Linked DNA regions of Homo sapiens: region 1 is linked to region 2. Evidence: fine-mapped expression QTL. A gene starts in region 2. The other region holds a variant in brackets. All regions are shown on one strand. Distances are between the middles of the regions.

What was found. PIP is the estimated chance that this variant, and not a neighbour inherited with it, causes the effect.
Region 1: its variant is fine-mapped to the expression of SCO2 in whole blood (INTERVAL, PIP above 0.99).

What each region holds. Positions count from the first base shown.
Region 1 is chr22:50,562,814-50,570,842 of GRCh38, forward strand. It overlaps SYCE3 (synaptonemal complex central element protein 3), which reads right to left and starts at 106. Exons shown (of 3, transcript NM_001123225.3): 1 at 45-106. It overlaps CPT1B (carnitine palmitoyltransferase 1B), which reads right to left. Exons shown (of 20, transcript NM_152246.3): 17 at 7,480-7,593; 18 at 6,763-6,855; 19 at 6,523-6,608; 20 at 6,048-6,268. The coding sequence ends at 6,525. CHKB-CPT1B (CHKB-CPT1B readthrough (NMD candidate)) reads right to left here. Exons shown (of 30, transcript NR_027928.2): 27 at 7,480-7,593; 28 at 6,763-6,855; 29 at 6,354-6,608; 30 at 6,048-6,268. LOC107985568 (a long non-coding RNA gene) reads left to right here and starts at 148. Exons shown (of 2, transcript XR_001755606.3): 1 at 148-754; 2 at 5,794-6,330. RefSeq lists a silencer at 1-207 and an enhancer at 7,352-7,421. The variant C/T (reference allele first, on the strand shown) is at 3,360.
Region 2 is chr22:50,520,186-50,529,447 of GRCh38, forward strand. SCO2 (synthesis of cytochrome C oxidase 2) reads right to left here and starts at 5,413. Exons shown (of 2, transcript NM_005138.3): 1 at 5,287-5,413; 2 at 3,383-4,239. The coding sequence starts at 4,226. The coding sequence ends at 3,426. NCAPH2 (non-SMC condensin II complex subunit H2) reads left to right here. Exons shown (of 20, transcript NM_152299.4): 10 at 780-851; 11 at 1,358-1,424; 12 at 1,556-1,663; 13 at 1,801-1,854; 14 at 1,996-2,066; 15 at 2,158-2,230; 16 at 2,316-2,384; 17 at 2,486-2,535; 18 at 2,636-2,737; 19 at 2,832-2,981; 20 at 3,050-4,595. The coding sequence ends at 3,190. It overlaps TYMP (thymidine phosphorylase), which reads right to left. Exons shown (of 10, transcript NM_001953.5): 3 at 8,951-9,153; 4 at 8,327-8,425; 5 at 7,403-7,532; 6 at 6,980-7,098; 7 at 6,391-6,553; 8 at 6,061-6,291; 9 at 5,816-5,956; 10 at 5,567-5,733. The coding sequence ends at 5,585. RefSeq lists silencers at 5,085-5,384, 5,595-6,424 and enhancers at 6,515-6,814, 6,623-7,194, 6,985-7,184, 7,205-7,354, 9,075-9,234.

The DNA of each region.
Region 1 (8,029 bases), 42 kb after region 2:
CGCGTTGGGAGGGCCGGGGCCCAGGGGGGCGCGGCCTCGCTCACCTCCAGCTTGGCCCGCGCTCCGGTCCTGCTCTGGCGCCCCCAGCGGCCGCTTGAGGAACAAGGCCGCTCCTCGAGAGGGATGCCCCGCCCTTTCCGTTAGCGAACCCTCCCCGGAAGTGACCTCTCGCCCTCATTGGGTGTCCTCGGGAAAAGGGGCGGGGCATTCCGCGCTGCTCCCACAGGTCTGCGGCGTCCGAGTCTGGGACTGGCAGGTGCGGTGCTGGGGACGTCCTGAGGTTGAGGGAGAATCCTGCGGAGATGAAGAGCTTCCCGGCCTGACAGTTTTGCCCCCACCTCCTTCTTGAGCTTAAGGATTTATACGCAGGGCCCCGTTTGCCTGCTGTGTCCCCAGTGTCCAGGACAGCGCCCGGTACCAAAGGTGCTGGTAAACATTTGTCGAATGAGTCGCTGAACGCCCAGCTATTTCCACTGTCACAGCGATCATGTGTGGCGGACATTATGTGGCATGTATCTTACAGAGGAGGCAGCCCGGGCTCAGGGAGACGAGGCAGAGGTGCACGCAGGTCTATGTGGGCTGGAAAGTGCTGGGGCCTCCCGGGCGCTCCTGGTCTCCAGGCAAGAACTGGAAGCAGAGCCACTCAACACCTAGAAGGGCAGTGACAGAAAGCTCTGGCTGGGAGGAGGCTGACCAGAGGCCAGTCTGAGCTCAGCCTTTTTTTTCAGAGGGACGTGGGCACCCTAGAAGGGTGGTAAGTAGGCGAGTGGCAGAGTTAAAAGGTCTCTGGCTGCCGAGGCGGGTGGCGACGGGGCCGGCCGTTGCTGTTGTTTGGCTGAGTGGTGGACAGGGTCAAAGCCATTCCAAGGTCGACTTGACAGGGCTTGGTAATGTGGGAGGGAGGGAGAAAGAAGCAAGGGGCTAATGGCCGGGGTGATACCACTGGCAGAGATGTGGAAGAGTGGGAGAAGCTAGCTTGGAAGGTTAACTTTGATTTTGAACACCTTGTGTTTGAGAATCCTGACAAACCTTAGACCCCCTGAATTTTCTCTCAGGGATTCTGATTCTTAGCAGCCTGATTGCAGAGGAGGAAAAATGGCTGGGGTTGAGCCAGACAGTTCTGGGCAAGGAGTGAGCATTCGCTTGTTTATTGAGGAGGCTGCTGCCTGGGCCACACTCCCTCCGCCAGCTGCCAGGTTCCTGCCCCGGTTGAACCCGGTTTTCTGGCCATCCCTTTCCACCTGTGAGCTGCTCTTCATACTTCCATTTGCTTATACAGCCCAGAGCCGATTTCTGTTACAGCAGCCCAGAGAAACATGAATAGGGAATAATTCTTTTTTTTTTTTTTTGAGACGGAGTCTTGCTCTGTTGCCCAGGCTGGAGTGCAGTGGCACGATCTCGGCTCACTGCAACCTCCGCCTCCCAGGTTCAAGTGATTCTCCTGCCTCAGCCTCCCTAGTAGCTGGGATTACAAGCACATGCCACAACGCCCAGCTAGTTTTTGTATTTTTAGTAGAGACCGGGTTTCGCTATGTTGGCCAGGCTGGTCTCGAACTCCTGTCCTCAGGTGATCCACCCGCCTCGGACTCCCAAAGTGCTGGGATTACAGGTGTGAGCCACTGTGCTTGGCCCGAATCAGGAATAATTCTGATGGCTAAGGAAGACAGCTTCCGAGAGAGTAGGAGAAAGGGCACAGGATTCCAGGCAGAAGGCCCATCTAGGGCAAAGGCGAAGGTGTGGCTCAGCCTGCCTCCTTTGGGGAATGGCGAGTGTGTTCTGGGCTCAGGGTTCTTGGTAAGGGACAGAGAAGACTCGGGAAAGATCAGTTGAGCTGGAATGTGCAGGCTCTTGAGTACCCTGCTCAGGAGCTGGAGGTGGGCTACCCTGCAAACTCCAGGCCATGAAGCCCAGGAAGATGTCAGGCTGGTCTTCCCATGCCCTTGTGTATCTGAGACCAACTGTCACTAAATGTTTCCTTTACGCCCTGGACACACAGCTAGACTCTACTTCTCAGATTCTCTTGAAATACAAGTCTTTAGCCAGAGGGTGTGGAGGGAAATGCTGTGTATCACTTTGAGGTTGAGGCCATCAAAGCCTCCCACAGGTGGCCCCCTCTTTCTCTCCCCACGTACTTATGATGTTGATGCCCAAGGCAGCTTGAGTACTACCTGCTGAAGGCAGGGCCTCTGTCACCATAGATCCTTGAATAACAGTATGGAGCAGAGCCCTCATCTCAGCCAACTGGATTTTATCTGACCAACAGTCCAGCTTCTATTGGGTTGAGCCATGAGGTTTCAGGATTTATGTTATGGCTGCTAGCTTTTATTAATGCAGACCTGCAGACCTATGGGACATGGGGAACTAATTGGGGTTTGGGTTGTCATCAGAGGTTTATTTATTTTTTTAAGACAGGGTGTTGCTCTGTCACCTAGGCTGGAATGCAGTGGGTCAATCATGGCTCACTGCAGCCTCAATCTCTCAGGCTCAAGTAATCCTCCCAACTCAGCCTCCAGAGTAGCTGGGGCCACAGGCAAGTGCCACCACGCCTGGCTAATTTTTTTTTTTTAATTTTGTAGAGATGGGGTCTCACTGCACCACCCAGGCTGGTCTCGAACTCCTGGGCTCAAGACCTCCCAAAGCACAGGCATTACAGGCGTGAGCTACCATGCCCAGCAGTCTCCAGAGGTTTATACCCTGGTTTACCACTGTTGTTCCTCATCTCACTATTTTAACCCAGAACAAATGAGATAAAAGAACTTTAATGCTGAATTTTGATGTTAATTGAAAGCTAGCTTGTTGGAAACTCTGTTTACTGCTATCTCAGGACGGGGTGAGCTGATGTCCCCAGAAGACTACCAAAACGCAGGCACCTTCCCAGGGGAGGCTTACTGGCACCCAAACAGGTAGAGGTCTCTGGAAATACTTTTGGAAGCTGAAGAACGCTCTGATATGGAATGTAACATTTTGCAGGCAGAGGTGTACTCTTTTTTTTTTTTTTTTTTTGAGACAGAGTCTCGGTCTCCCAGGCTGGAGTACAGTGGCACCATCTTAGCTCACTGCAACCTCCATCTCCTGGGTTCAAGCGATTCTCCTGCCTCAGCCTCCTGAGTAGCTGGGACTACAGGCACGTGCCACCACACCCGGCTAATTTTTGTATTTTTAGTAGAGGCAGGGTTTTGCTGTATTAGCCAGGATGGTCTCGATCTCCTGACCTCGTGATCTGCCCGCCTCGGCCTCCCAAAGTGCTGGGATTACAGGTGTGAGCCACCGCGCCCGGCCCCAAGAGGCATACTCTTATAGCTCATGAAGACTTGAAGGAGGTGAGGAGCCTCTGCCCTGGGAATCCTCTCATGCACTTT[C/T]AAGGTTTTAACTGTCTTCAAAACTGTTAGAAGGAGCCTAGATCTCTCCTTAGCTTTTCATTTATATTTTCAAGAGTCTGAGACATTTTCACAGCTATTTCTTATAGGCAAGTCAAATTCAACATTTAAAGACCTAATTTAATCACCCAATCACCCAATATAGAAAATATGAGTTATCTTTGATTCCTCCTGATTAGACTTGTCAGTCCTACGTTTGACATTCCAAGCTCCTTAATTCTACTTTCCTATGGCACTGCCTTAGTTTAAGCCGCTCATTTCTTCCAGCTCCACCACCACCAGGAGCACTTCTCCAGCGGGTCTCCTTGCTTCCACTGTTACTGCGTCCTACTTTGTTCTAACGCCACCCTGGTTAGCCAGTGATCCCTTAAAATTAGGACAGATTATGCCACCCTCTGTTCAAAGCCCAACAGCTTCCCCCGTCATTCAGAAAATCCAGAATCTGGCCTACGAGGCCCTTGTTACCCCGATCTAGCTGCCCCGCTTGCTCTTCCCATCCCTGACTCCACACTAGCCACATCCTTCATCACAGCAGACACCGCTCGCAAAGCTTTGGCTCTTGCTGTTCCTTCAGCCAGGAATACTCTGCCCTTAGGTACGGAACATGAGGGACATGAGGGACATGACTTGCTCCTCGTCTCCTTCAGGCCTGTGGTCAAAGGACCCCAATCAGGAAGGCTTGCTTTTGCCACTGTCTGAAATTGCCACCCACCTCTCCTTTTGTCTCTCCACTTACTTTTCCTCTTTTTTTTTTTTTGAGACGGAGTCTTGCTCTGTCGCCCAGGCTGGAGTGCAGTGGCGCGATCTTGGCTCACTGCAAGCTCCACCTCCCAGGTTCACGCCATTCTCCTGCCTCAGCCTCTCCCAGTAGCTGGGACTACAAGCACCCACCACCACACCTGGCTAATTTTTTGTATTTTTAGTAGAGACAGGGTTTCACCGTGGTCTTGATCTCCTGACCTTGTGATCCACCTGCCTTGGCCTCCCAAAGTGCTGAGATTACAAGCGTGAGCCACTGCGCCCAGCCCATGGTGTCTTATAAGTGTCTTATATAAGGGTACCATTTTTTTTTTTTTTGAGACGGAGTCTCGCTCTGTTGCCCAGGCTGGAGTGCAGTGGTGCCATCTTGGCTCAGTGCAAGCTCCGCCTCCTGGGTTCACGCCATCCTCCTGCCTCAGCCTCCCAAGCAGCTAGGACTACGGGCGCCCGCCACCATGCCTGGCTAGTTTTTGTATTTTGTTTAGTAGAGACACTGTTTCACCGTGTTAGCCAGGATGGTCTCGATCTTCTGACCTCGTGATCCACCTGCCTCGGCCTCCCAAGGTGCTGGGATCACAGGCGTGAGCCACTGCACCTGGCCATAAGGGTGCCATTTTTAATCTTTTATATAACATTTTTACTATACCTTTTCTATGTTTAGACAAGTTTAGATACACAAAGACTTCCCATTGTATTACAGTTGCCTACAGTATTCAGTATGGTAACATGTTGTAAAGGCATGCGGCCTAGGAGCAACAGGGTAAGCAGCATAGCCCAGGTCTGTAGTAGGCTGCACCATCTACCTTTGTGTAAATGCACTCTAGAATCTTTGCACAACAAAATCGCCTAACAATGCACTTCTCAGAATGTATCCCCTTCATTAAGCAACCCATGCCTGTACTTGGTAAGTGGATTATCCCAAAAGCCTCCTGGTTTCCTGCCAGCTGCTCTGTCCCCTGACCACACCTGCCTCACCCAGCAGTGAATTCGACATGGGCAGGAATAGGACCTTGTTTACCACTGAATCCCCAGCACAGGGCCAAGTCTATGGTGGGTGTTCAACAGACACTGGTTCCTGGCCGGGCACGGTGGCTCACGCCTGAAATCCTAGCACTTTGGAAAGTCGAGGTGGGAGGATCACTTAAGCTCAGGAGTTCGAGACCAGCCTGGGCAACATAGTGAGACCCTATCTCATGGGAAAAAAAAGAAAAAAACAAAAACAGATGAAGACACTGGTTCCTAAATGAAGGTCCAGAACTGAATCTAATTCACTTCAATTACAGTAATTGAGGGCCTACTTATACTTTTCATAAAAATTATTTTTTATGGCTGGGTGCGGTGGCTCACACCTATAATCCCTGCACGTTGGGAGGCTGAGGCAGGTGGATCACCTGAGGTCAGGAATTCGAGACCAGCCTGGCCAACATGGTAAAACCCTGCCTCTACTAAAAATACAAAAAATTAGCCGGGCGTGATGGCGGGCGCCTGTTGTCCCAGCTACTCAGGAGCTGAGGTACGAGAATCGCTTGAACCCAGGAGGCAGAGGTTGTAGTGAGTCGAGATCGTGCCACTGCACTCCAGCCTGGGCAACAAGAGCGAAACTCCGCCTTAAAAACAAAGAATAATTATTTTGTATTTACTCTTAACATGATTTTAGCAGCCGAGCCAACCTCAGTGAAGGAGTGTCTGTTGCTACAGGTCATCCTGCGTGCCCTCTTGCAGACATGACCACCTGGCGCCTCAAGACTTCAGGCCTGGGCCTGCAGCCCCTTTCCATGCTGACAAGAAGCTGCGGGGCCCGTGCAGGGTTGTGCCTCAGCCAAGAGGGGTGCCTCACACATGCCCCTGCATGGGAGGAGGTGGGCTCACTCTCCAGCAGACAGACAAACAGAAATGGCCCCAGGGAACAGGTGAAGGTTCTGAGGCAAGTATTTATTCCAAGCAAACACGTGGGCGTGGACAGCTATCTCAGAGCCTACGTCACTCAGCAGAGTCACACATTTCAAAGCAGGTCACACAAGTCCCTCATGAACAGTCTTCCAGCTTCAGCCCTTCTCTTGCCACCTCTGTGGTCTGAGCTGGGGGAGGGGGAGGGCCTCCGAGTTCCCAAACAAAACACAGGTACCTAAGGGCTGAGAGAAAATTACACAGCCTTATTTTTATTAGTATCTATCAAGAAAAAAAAAAATCAAAATTCCCTTCCTGCTCCAACCCCACCTCCACCACCTGGGCCCTCAGGGAGCAGCATCTGCCCAGCGAGGACCTGCTGCCGGAGCTGTCCTTGGAGCCTGGGCACCTGTGCACGGCCACCCCTCATGCCTGTGAGCTGCCACAGGTCCCTTCCTCCACAGTGTGGGGACGAAAGGGCAGCTGGCATTTCTCCAACCTTCAGCTGTAGGCCTTGGGAACTTGGAAAAGATCAGCAATGTCCAGCAGGGCTTTGCGGATGTGGTTTCCAAAGCGCTGGGCGTTCTGTGGGAGCCAAGAGTTCAGATGCACCTTCAGATATGTACCCACCCCTCTGTTCCCACAAGCAAGGATGCCTCCCCAGCCAAAGACACCTGTGTTCCTGGGCAGCCCCAGGTGGCACCCCTTCCTCAGGCCTGAGCTGTGGCAGGAGACTCACCGTCTCTGAGCTTGAGAACTTGCTGGAGATGTGGAAGAAGATCGTGTTCTCGCCTGCAATCATGTAGGAAACTCCATAGCCATCATCTGCTACCTGAGGGCAACAAGAAGGGTGAAGAAGGCATAAATCAAACCTTGAAGATCTGAAAGCCAAGCTGATATTGTACTTGTTCTTCCCACAAGAGTTGCAGGAACGGGCCCCAGCCCTAGACACTGCATTTTTCCTGAGGACCACCCCCAGGAAACTGTGAAAACCAAAGAATGCTGCCCAGACCCCGCCAAGGGATCTGGGACCTCCCAGTTTCCCTCAGGGGGCTTATTCTCTAGATCACTCCGTCTCTCTCCAGAGGGTTCTCTAGCCTTCTGACAAGCTAGCCCATGTGAAGGTTTCTGTGGGAGACAGCTGCACTCTCTTGGATAAGTAGACTTCAGAAGCACCCAGTGCACTGCCCAGTACCCTGGAAACCAGCCCCACAGTCATGCTTCAGTACCCCGGAAACCACGGTCATGCTTCAGCAGGGAGGTATTTGGGATGGGTGGGTCCCAGGTGCTTGGCTGCCTGAGTCCATAGCTAACATTCTGCTTCCATGCAGGTCTGGGGTTATGCTCTCCTCTAAGCAAGGTGCTCCTGCCTCTCGTCTGACCTCAGGGCCTGCACTCGCCACTGAAACCCTCAGGGCCCTGGTGCTGCCCACCCACCCCCTTCAGGAGCACTCACAGGGCCAAAGCCACCTCCAGCGCCCAGGTGATTGGGGTGCTGCTCTGGGTCGAACATGCGGATCTGGGATTGGGGGATCTGGCTGGTGGAGAGACGCCAGGGTTCCGAGAGCACCTGCAATGGAGGCCACAGCTGGTCAGAGGCCACATACCCAAAGCACCTGTCCAACACGTGGTGTCTGCGACCTACTCTGAGCCAGACACGGTTCTGCTGAGGGTGCAGGAGCTCCCTGGCCACCACCCCGTGGTCCCCTGTGCATCATGCCACATAAGGCTTGTGTGAGCTGCCCAGCCCTCCCTCTGCTCTGCCTCTCCCCCACATAGCCTCACTAGTCTCAGTAGTGCTGTCACCACCTGACAGATCATATATTTGTCTGTTCCCTGTCACAAGGACACCAACACCACAAAGAGGATGTTGCTCCTGCTCAGTCCCAGGACCACAGGCCCAGGTGGGGTGTGGGCGGGAAAGCTGGCCCAGCACTCCAGGGAGCTTCAGGGGAGCAAGCCAGGAAAACAGGCCGTGCTCCATCATGAGATGGCCCAAGCCCTGC
Region 2 (9,262 bases):
AAGTTTTTCTTAGGGTTTTTGTTTTAATACCCCCAGAGAGTACTAGCAGGGTTTATTTTTATCTTATTTTATTTATTTATTTTTGAGACAGGGTCTTGCTCTGTTGCCCAGGCTAGAGTGCAGTGGCCTGATCTTGGCTCATTGCAGCCTTGACTCTCTCTAGGCTCAGGTGATCCTTCCACCTCAGCCTCCCGAGTAGCTGGGACTACAGGCGTGTACCACCACACCCGGCTAATTTTTGTATTTTTTGTAGAGACGGGGTCTCACTGCATTGCCCAGGCTGGTCTTGAACTCCTGGGCTCAAGTGATCTACCCGCCTTGGCCTCTCAAAGCACTGGGATTATAGGCGTGAGCCACTGTGTCCGGTCCCTGTAGGTTTTTTTTTTTTTTTTGGACGGAGTCTTGTTCTTTTGCCCAGGCTGGAGTGCAGTGGTGTGATATCGGCTCACTGCAACCTCTGCCTCCTGGGTTCAAGCGATTCTCCTGCCTCGGCCTCCCGAGTAGGTGGGATTACAGGTGTGCGCCACCACACCCGGCTAATTTTTTTTGCATTTTTAGTAGAGGCGGGGGTTTCACCATGTTGGCCAGGCTGGTCTCAAACTCTTGACCTCGGGTGATCTGCCCGCCTTGGCCTCCCAAAGTGCTGGGATTACAGGCATGAGCCACCACGCCCGACCCTTGTAGGGTTCTTGATGTTAACCCAAGGTGGAGTTCCTGGGGTACCCAGAGCCTTGAGGGGAGAAAGAGGAGAAGTGGGGACCCTGTGACTGTCTTTGCAGAGTGCTGCCCTGCCCAGGAGGTACATGCTGCGGGAGCGGGAGGGGGCCCCAGAGCCTGCATCCTGCGTGAAGGTAGGAGTGTTGGGGCCCTGACCCCCGGCAGGGAGGGATGGGCGGATTCGAGGACTGGCTGCCTGCCCATCATGCTCTTGCTCCTGCTGGCCTGTGGTGTTCCCAGCCTGTGGCCCTTTGCACTTGCTCTCTTAAAGACCCCCTCATGCGACTCTGGGCTCCCACCCTCTCTCTAGTGTTCCCCTCTGTGATCCAGGATTTGAGTGTGGTCGGCTCTGCCCCAGGCTGTCACTGCACTTGTTGCCTGGGCTTTGGGAAGGCGGCTGTGCACCCCCTACTCCTCTGGGAGGGTGGCTGTGTACCCCCTACTCCTTTGGGAGGGTGGCTGTGAACCCCCTACTCCTCCTTTGGGAGGGTGGCTGTGCACCCCCTACTCCTCCTTTGGGAGCGCGGCTGTGTACCCCCTACTCTTCCTTTGGGAGGGTGGCTGTGCATCCCCTACTCCTTTGGGAGGGACGGCTGTGCACCCCCTACTTCTCCAGCGCCTTCTTGTGCTCTGTGCCCAGGAGACTCCAGACCCCTGGCAGAGCCTGGACCCCTTTGACTCCTTGGAGTCTAAGCCCTTCAAGAAAGGTAATTGGGTGGAAGGTACCTCCACTCAGGTACCCCTGGCTGGGTTTCCTGGGGCATGAGGTGGGGGGGTGGGAGTGGGCTTTGCACCCTGATCCCCCAGCGGCTCTAAGACAGTCCCTGTTTGCCCCCAGGTAGGCCTTACTCTGTGCCCCCCTGTGTGGAGGAGGCTCTGGGACAGAAGCGCAAGAGGAAGGGCGCTGCCAAGCTGCAGGACTTCCACCAGTGGTACCTGGCTGCCTGTGAGTGGGTGTGGTGTGCACTCCGGACCACTGGGAGCTGGGGGCTGGGCCAGGGCCAGTGGAGGAGGATCAGCACCCTTTTCCCAATGCTGTGGGCAGCTCTTGGCCTGGCTGGTGCTGAGCATGTTCTTTCACAGATGCAGACCATGCCGACAGCAGGCGGCTTCGGCGAAAGGGTCCGTCCTTTGCAGGTGAGGCTGAAGTCCTCGGGGAAGACAGTTTTACTCTCCTTCCCCTACCTCTTCCCCCACCTGGTGTCACCCAAAGCCTTGGGTGGACTGGCACGGGGCCTGGGAAGGACGAGGGAGCCCTCACAAGGCCTTTGTCTGCAGACATGGAGGTCCTGTACTGGACACACGTGAAGGAGCAGTTGGAAACTCTCCGGAAGCTGCAGAGGAGGGAGGCAAGTCCCAGCTGGTCAGCTGTGATCTAGGACCCCGTGGTGGCCCTGATGGGAGGTGACAGTGCCCCTCACAGATGCTTTCTCTGGACAGGTGGCTGAGCAGTGGCTGCGGCCTGCAGAGGAGGACCACCTGGAGGATTCCCTGGAAGACCTGGGGGCAGCAGGTGGGTGCCTGCCAGGGGGTGGGGTGGGGCTTGGCACCTGCCGACTAGCTGCCTGCGTGCTGTTCACTCTCCCACCTCCCAGCAGATGACTTTCTAGAGCCTGAGGAGTACATGGAGCCCGAGGGAGCAGACCCCAGGGAAGCCGCTGACCTTGGTAGGTGGGCAGCGGGCTAGGAGTGCTGAGGGGCCACTGGAGCTGGGGGCAGGGGAGAGCGTGGCCCCTTAGCTGCCCAGCTCACAGCTACCCCTTCCCAGACGCAGTGCCGATGTCCCTGAGCTACGAGGAGCTGGTTCGAAGGAATGTGGTAGGCCTGGGTTAGAGGGAGACGGGGAGGGGAGGGGGACAGGTGAGCGGTGCCCAGGCCCCTGCTTGGGAGGCAGTAGCTCCTGCTGATCCTCCCCTAGGAGCTCTTCATCGCCACCTCCCAGAAGTTTGTCCAGGAGACAGAGCTGAGCCAGCGCATCAGGGACTGGGAGGACACAGTGCAGCCTCTGCTCCAGGAGCAGGTGAGGCGGGGCCGCTGGGAACCAGAGCTGTGTGCCACGGGTCTGTCCAGGGCCTTGCCTCTCTCCGCAGCCAACATGCCCCTCCCCTGTGCAGGAGCAGCATGTGCCCTTTGACATCCACACCTATGGGGACCAGCTGGTCTCACGGTTCCCCCAGCTCAATGAGTGGTGTCCCTTTGCGGAGCTGGTGGCTGGCCAGCCGGCCTTCGAGGTGTGTCGTTCCATGCTGGCCTCCCTGCAGCTGGTGAGTAGCCTGGGATACGTGGGAGGGGGAGACGGTCCCCAGACCCTGCTGATGTGCCACCCCTGCAGGCCAATGACTACACAGTGGAGATAACCCAGCAGCCCGGGCTGGAGATGGCCGTGGACACCATGTCCCTGAGACTGCTCACGCACCAGCGAGCGCACAAGCGCTTCCAGACCTACGCTGCCCCCTCCATGGCCCAGCCCTGAGTGGGGAGCACCGAGGCAGGGGTGGGGGAATGTGTACTGAGGAGCCGTGTGTCTGCTCCTGGCTGGCCCGGCCTAATAAAGCAGTGTTGCCATCTCATCTTCCCCCTAAAAACCCTTTTATGTACACCTGCGCAGAGAAGAGGGCTGCCTGGCCTCCCTGGGCCGCTGGTACAGATCACACACACACACAGATTAAACGCAGCCCGTTTAATGATGGGGCCCAGACTGCAGTGGCTCAAGACAGGACACTGCGGAAAGCCGCCATGTGCCGCCGCACACTGTCTGAGATCTGCTCAGCCGATCTGCTCCGGCCGTAGTAATCCGTGAAGAGGCCGTCAGGGTTGAGCAGGTAGATGGCAATGGAGTGGTCCACGATGTAGTCCTGGTCCTCATCCTTGGGGCCTGCATTGTAGTACACGCGGTAACTGTGACTAGCCTGGGCAACCTGTTTGGTGGAGCCGGTCAGACCCAACAGTCTTGGGTGGAAGTCCTGGACGTAGCGGGCCATGGCTTCAACGTCGTCCCGCTCGGGGTCCACAGTGATGAAGACAGGCTGCACTGGAGGCAAACCAGGCTCTGCTTCCAGCTGCCGCACCACCTGCACCAGCTTCTCCAGCTCGTCTGGGCAGATGTCAGGGCAGTGAGTGAAGCCAAAGTACATCAGCACCCACTGGCCCCGGAAGTCAGCCTTGCAGCGAGCCCGGCCTCTGTGATCCAGCAGGTGGAAGTCGCCCTGGCCCACAGCTGCCTGGCGCAGGGCTTCTGTTCGCTTTTGCTGCTGCAGCCTCTCCTTCTCAGCCCTCAGGGCCAGCCAGGCCCCACCGAGTCCAGCCCCGAACAGGCCTGTGATCAGCAGCCGGGTTCGAAGCCCAGGGCCCTGGGGCTGGCCCTGCCCACCTGTCTCTGCAGGGCCCTGCCTTGACAAAAGCCAGGACCTCAGATGCAGGGCCTGGCCTCCCAGGGTCCCAGGGAGGACCCGAGGCTTGAGCTGAGAGAGCCTGTGCCAAGCTGTGGGGCTCCGAGTCAGCAGCAGCATGGATCTGATGCTCCTGGAAACAAGCACAGGCGTCAGGAGCCAGAAGGGAAGGCCCAGGACAGTGCCTGGGCTGCCCCTGCGACTTGAGACCAGCCACCCATCTGAAGGACCCAGCCCACGTTCAGGCTTAACAGGCATTTGCAGCTGCTCACCTGAGCTCAGAACTCCACCTCCACCAAACATCCACACCTGGGCAACCACACCTGTCACTCCTGTCCTCTACCTGGGATCACCAGCCTGTCACCGCACCCTGCCCTGCACCTGCACCTCAGCAAGGTGAACCTCTTGCTGACGGAAAGCATTCCAAGTGCATGCCTTGCCTGAACTAACCACGTTATCTATTTGCAATAAACCCATTTCTTAAAAGGAGGTGGGTAACTCTCTGGCTTGCAATCCCCGAGAGCAACCGATTCCTCCAACACTTTCCTGTTACCTCCAGCCACTTCAACCAACCGCGGCCTTCCTCCACACTCCCAGCAGAAAACCTGCACGACCTACCCCCGGAGCTCAGACTCTGCCCGCCGGCTGTGTTTAACCTCTCCTGGCAGAGACGCACGACACTTCCACCCGCCACAAAACCCCACCCTCCTCACATCCAGGCTTCCCAGCAGCTCCTCCGGGCTCACAGCCGACGCCCTGCCTTTGCGTTGGTGACCTTTGAGCCTTTCCCACGGGCCCCCGCAGAAGGTTTGCTAGGTGGAGGTCTCAGGACTCCCGGTCACTGCCCCCTCCTGCTGAGGGCACCCTCCCGAGGACTCACTGCACCCCCGCCCGGGCGGTTCTGGGTTTGTGCCCTCCCCAGCAAGGCCAGCGCCCTCGTGGCCAGAAAGGTTCCAGGACCACTCGAAGCGCCGCGCGAGCGCGTTATAACTGTGCTTGGCCGCGAGAACACCGGTGCCTGCTGGGAGCCTCCCACGGGCGCCCCAGCCTCGCTCCGGCCTCCAGCGCGCCCTGGGGTGTGCCCCGCCAGCCCCGCGCAGTAGCCGGAGCTGGGAAACTACCCCGGAGTCCAGCGAGTCCTCAGGGCTACCTCCTCCCCTCCCAGCCCCGGCGTCCGCACCTCGCGGCGGGGCCGCGCGTCAGTGGACCAAGCACGAGAGGAAGCGCCGACCTCCAGCTCCCTGCGCTCTGCCCCGCCGGCTCAGGGAAAGCGGGCGCCACACGCTCACAGGCAGGGCGCAGGCGTCCCCGGAGCTGCGCATGCGCACACGGGCGCAGCCGCTGACAGGCTCTCAGCGCGTGCGCGGAAGGCGGAGCCCGCCGGGGGTCACGTGTTCATCGAGACGGCCCCCGCCTCCGCAGCCCTGGATCCTTCCGCTCCCGCCCAAGCACTGACAAGGTTTCGCGGCAAAGGAGCTTTATTGCTGCGGCGGCAGAACGAGCTCTGCGAAGGGCGAGGGGGCGGCGAATGGCGCGCGGTCGGAGAGTACGAGCGCCTCCTGCAGGGCGCGGCTCTGCGGGCCGCTGAGCGCGGGGCCGTCCCGGTGCACGCGGAGCCAGGGGGTCCCTGCAGAGCGAGGGGCTGTTAGAGGCCGCGCGGCCGGAGCTGGGCGGGGGTGCGGGGCCAGCAGGGCGGGGGCGGCGCTCACCACGGCGCAGCCTCTGACCCACGTCGACCAGCAGCTCTGCGCCCACCCCCAGGCGGAGCGGCTCCCCAGCGCGGCTGCGCCCGGCCCCGAGCTCGTGCAGCACCAGCGCCAGCGGCAGCGCCCGGACCAGCTCCACGGTGCCTGCGGGGAGAGGGGCTGAGAGGCGCGGGCTCGGGAAGGGGCGGGGCCTCGGGAAGGGAAGGGGATGGCGGAGGCGGAAGGACGGGGACTCCCCCGACGCTCACCATCTGCGGGCGCCAGCAGCTCCTCCTGCTCCCGGGCGCGAGGCAGCAGCTGCCGGCGTTCTGCGGGACTTCCCGAGCACAGGGCTCGGGCCAGACCGGGATCCACGCCCTGCGCCGCCAGCATCCGCTCGAAGCGGCCAAGGGCCGAGCCGTCGTCCAGCGCCGCGGCCACCCGGGCAGCGCCCTGGGCCTGAGTCCCCGCGTGTCCGCTGAGCCAGAGCAGGGCGCCCCCTGCGGGCGGGGACGGGTCTTAGGCGCGGCCGGGTCGGGGCGGCCCCAGCGGGAAGCACCCCCCGCCGCCTCCGCTCCCCTACACCCCGTCCCCCTCACCGAGCGTGGTGACCAGGTCCCTTAAGTCTGGCGGGCCTGCGCCGTCCATGCAGAGCAGCGCCTCCTCCACCTCCAGGGCGTGGCCCACGCAGCGACCCAGGGGCTTGTCCATGGCGGTCAGCGCTGCCGCGACCCGAAGCCCTAGGCTGGCTCCCACGCCAACCTGCGGAGAGGAGGCTCAGCGTGGACCCCCCATGGCGGGGCCTTCTGCAGCCGGTTCTTGGTCGAACTCCAGCCCCTGCTGCACCCTGGGTTGCCAGCCCCCCAGCATGAAGTCAGGGAAGGATTGGGGTGGGGAAGAGACACGAGTGAAGTGCGACACCTCGCCATGGGGCCAGGAGGAACTTGTACTTGGTCTGGGGCAGGAACGCCACAGAGGGCTTCCCCAGGTCCAGGCCGGGCCAGCCTTGACCTCTAAAGTCACAGCAGGTTAGGAAGCCGTGAAGGAGGGAGGGACTTCGGGCAGAAGAGGGTGGGACTGGGGTTAGGCAGGACTGCTGAGTGGAGGGAGGCAGTGGGGACGGGAGGGGTGAAGGGTAGGCTGGGCCCGCATCAAGACGCTTGCCCAGGGAAAGGCCACACCGCTCACCAGCGTCTTTGCCAGCTCCCGGGCCTGCTCCTGGTTGGGGAAGACGGCGGCCCCTCCGAACTTAACGTCCACCACCAGAGCGGACAGCCCCTCCACGAGTTTCTTACTGAGAATGGAGGCTTTGGGGGAGGCAGAGGAGGTTGGAGACAATGGAGAACCTGGAGCTTCTTGGGAGAGTTCGGGGATGCCGACTTTGGGGTCAGGGGCCCTGAGCATTGAGGGTCAAGTCCCTTATTATGGGGGTGGCAGCACCTGGTGGGTTGAGTATCAGGCCACCCCACATGGTGGTGGTCAGGCATCTTGTGATGGGGGTAGGGGGGCACACGGTCAGGTGACGGGTAACTCCTAACGAGAGGCCCTTGACTTGAGTTTGGAGGTCAGGAGCCTGTGAACATGCAGAAGCAGGCCATGGAGTCAGGTCACCTGTGATGAGTGGCAGGCTGTCCACGGTGGCTGTCACATCTCTGGCTGCATATAGGATTCCGTCCGCAGGAACCAGCTGCTCACTCTGACCCACGATACAGCAGCCCGCCTGGTCCAGCAGCACTTGCATCTGGTCAGACATCCCCTGTTCTCAGTGACTTATGGTAAATGACTTAGCAGCTTTTTTTTTTTTTTTTTTTTTTTCTGTGAAGAGTCTTCCTCTGTTGCCCAGGCTGGAGTGCAGTTGGCACAATTTCGGCTCATTGTGACCTCTGCCTCCTGGGCTTAAGTGATCCTCCCACCTCAGCTTCCCAGTAGCTGGGACTACAGGTGCGCACCACCACACGCGGCTTTTTTTTTTCTTCTTTTTTTTGTAGAGATCAAGTTTCACTATATTACCCAGGCTGATCTCCAACTGGGCTCCTCTGCCTCCCAGAGTGCTGGGACAGGGTCTCACTCTGTTGCCCAGGCTGGAGTGCAGTGGCATCGTCCCGGCTCACTGCAGCCTAGACCTCCCAGGCTCAAGTGATCCTCCTGCCTCAGCCTCCTGAGTAGCTGGAACCACATGCGTGCACCACCACACGCAGCGAACTATTTTGTAGAGATGGGGTTTTGCCGTGTTATCCAGGCTGGTTTTGAACTCCTGGGTTCAAGGGATCTGCCCTCTTCGGCCTCCCCAAGTGCTAGGACTACAGGTGTGAGCCACCGTGCCCCGCCAGCCATCTGTGATTTTGACCAACTTCCCATTTTATGATCCTAATCAAAGTTCCACTGATGATTTCGGCCCAGGCCCAGTGACTCATGAGTAACCTTGACCAGTGTTCTCATTAGTGACCCTAATGATCCACCAGTGATCTTTTAGTGATTCTGGCCAGGGTCTCCATCATCAACCTGGATTAATGACTGATCCGTGGCGCCCCGTACCTGCTCTGGGCTCTGGATGACATTGAATCCAGGAATAGACTCCAGCTTATCCAAGGTGCCTCCTGTGTGCCCCAGACCACGTCCGCTGATCATTGGCACCTGGTGGTCAGGGATGCTGAGTACCCTGCACAGTACCCCTCCCCCACCTCTGTGCATCCCTTCACCTTCCCTGGCTAGGAGTGCAGCTGGATTTGGAAAGTATTTAAGCAGCTATAGGGGTGCCCAGCTGGTGAGGGAATGGAAAGGAAGTTTTCTTGGTTGAGAAGTGTCAGTAGGGGAGGAGGTTGGTACCTGTCCTTGGGGAAACAAGGCTTGGGGCAGAGGGAGGAAAGTCCTCAGCTCCTCCCTTGGGGGAGCTGTCTGGGGACCCAAGGGGAAAGGGGTCTGAATTCCATCAGTGGATCTTTTTCCTGCTCCAAGGGGCCTGGTCTGGAGCCAGAGGGGCCCCAAGCGCTGTGCTGGGGAACGGGGTGGGGAGAACTGTGCTGGGGAGCAGGGTGGGGAGAAGCCTTGGTAGGGTCTTGGAGGCTTTGGGCCAGGCTTGAGGTTGGGAGCTGCCTGTGGATGGACTGGTTGCTGCATGTGCGGTATAGGCTCCCGTCTGGAAAGGAGGTGGTTTCTAACCTTGCAGCCACATGCCGCCAGGGCAGGTGCGAGGACCAGGCTGACCTTGTCACCCACACCCCCTGTGGAATGCTTGTCCACAAGCTGCTGGCGCCAGGCCTCTGGCCACTCCAGCTGCTGTCCCGACTGAGCCAGGGCCTGGGTCAGCACCGAGGTCTCCTCCAGATCCATGCCCCGAAGTCGGATGGCCATCAGCATGGCCCCTGGTATGTGGGGGTACGCGTGAGGGTGGCAGCCCACAGCGGTGGGGCACCCTGGGGCCGGTGCTGGTAGTGGGGCACCGTCGCACCCCCAGGGACCCAAAGTCTCTCG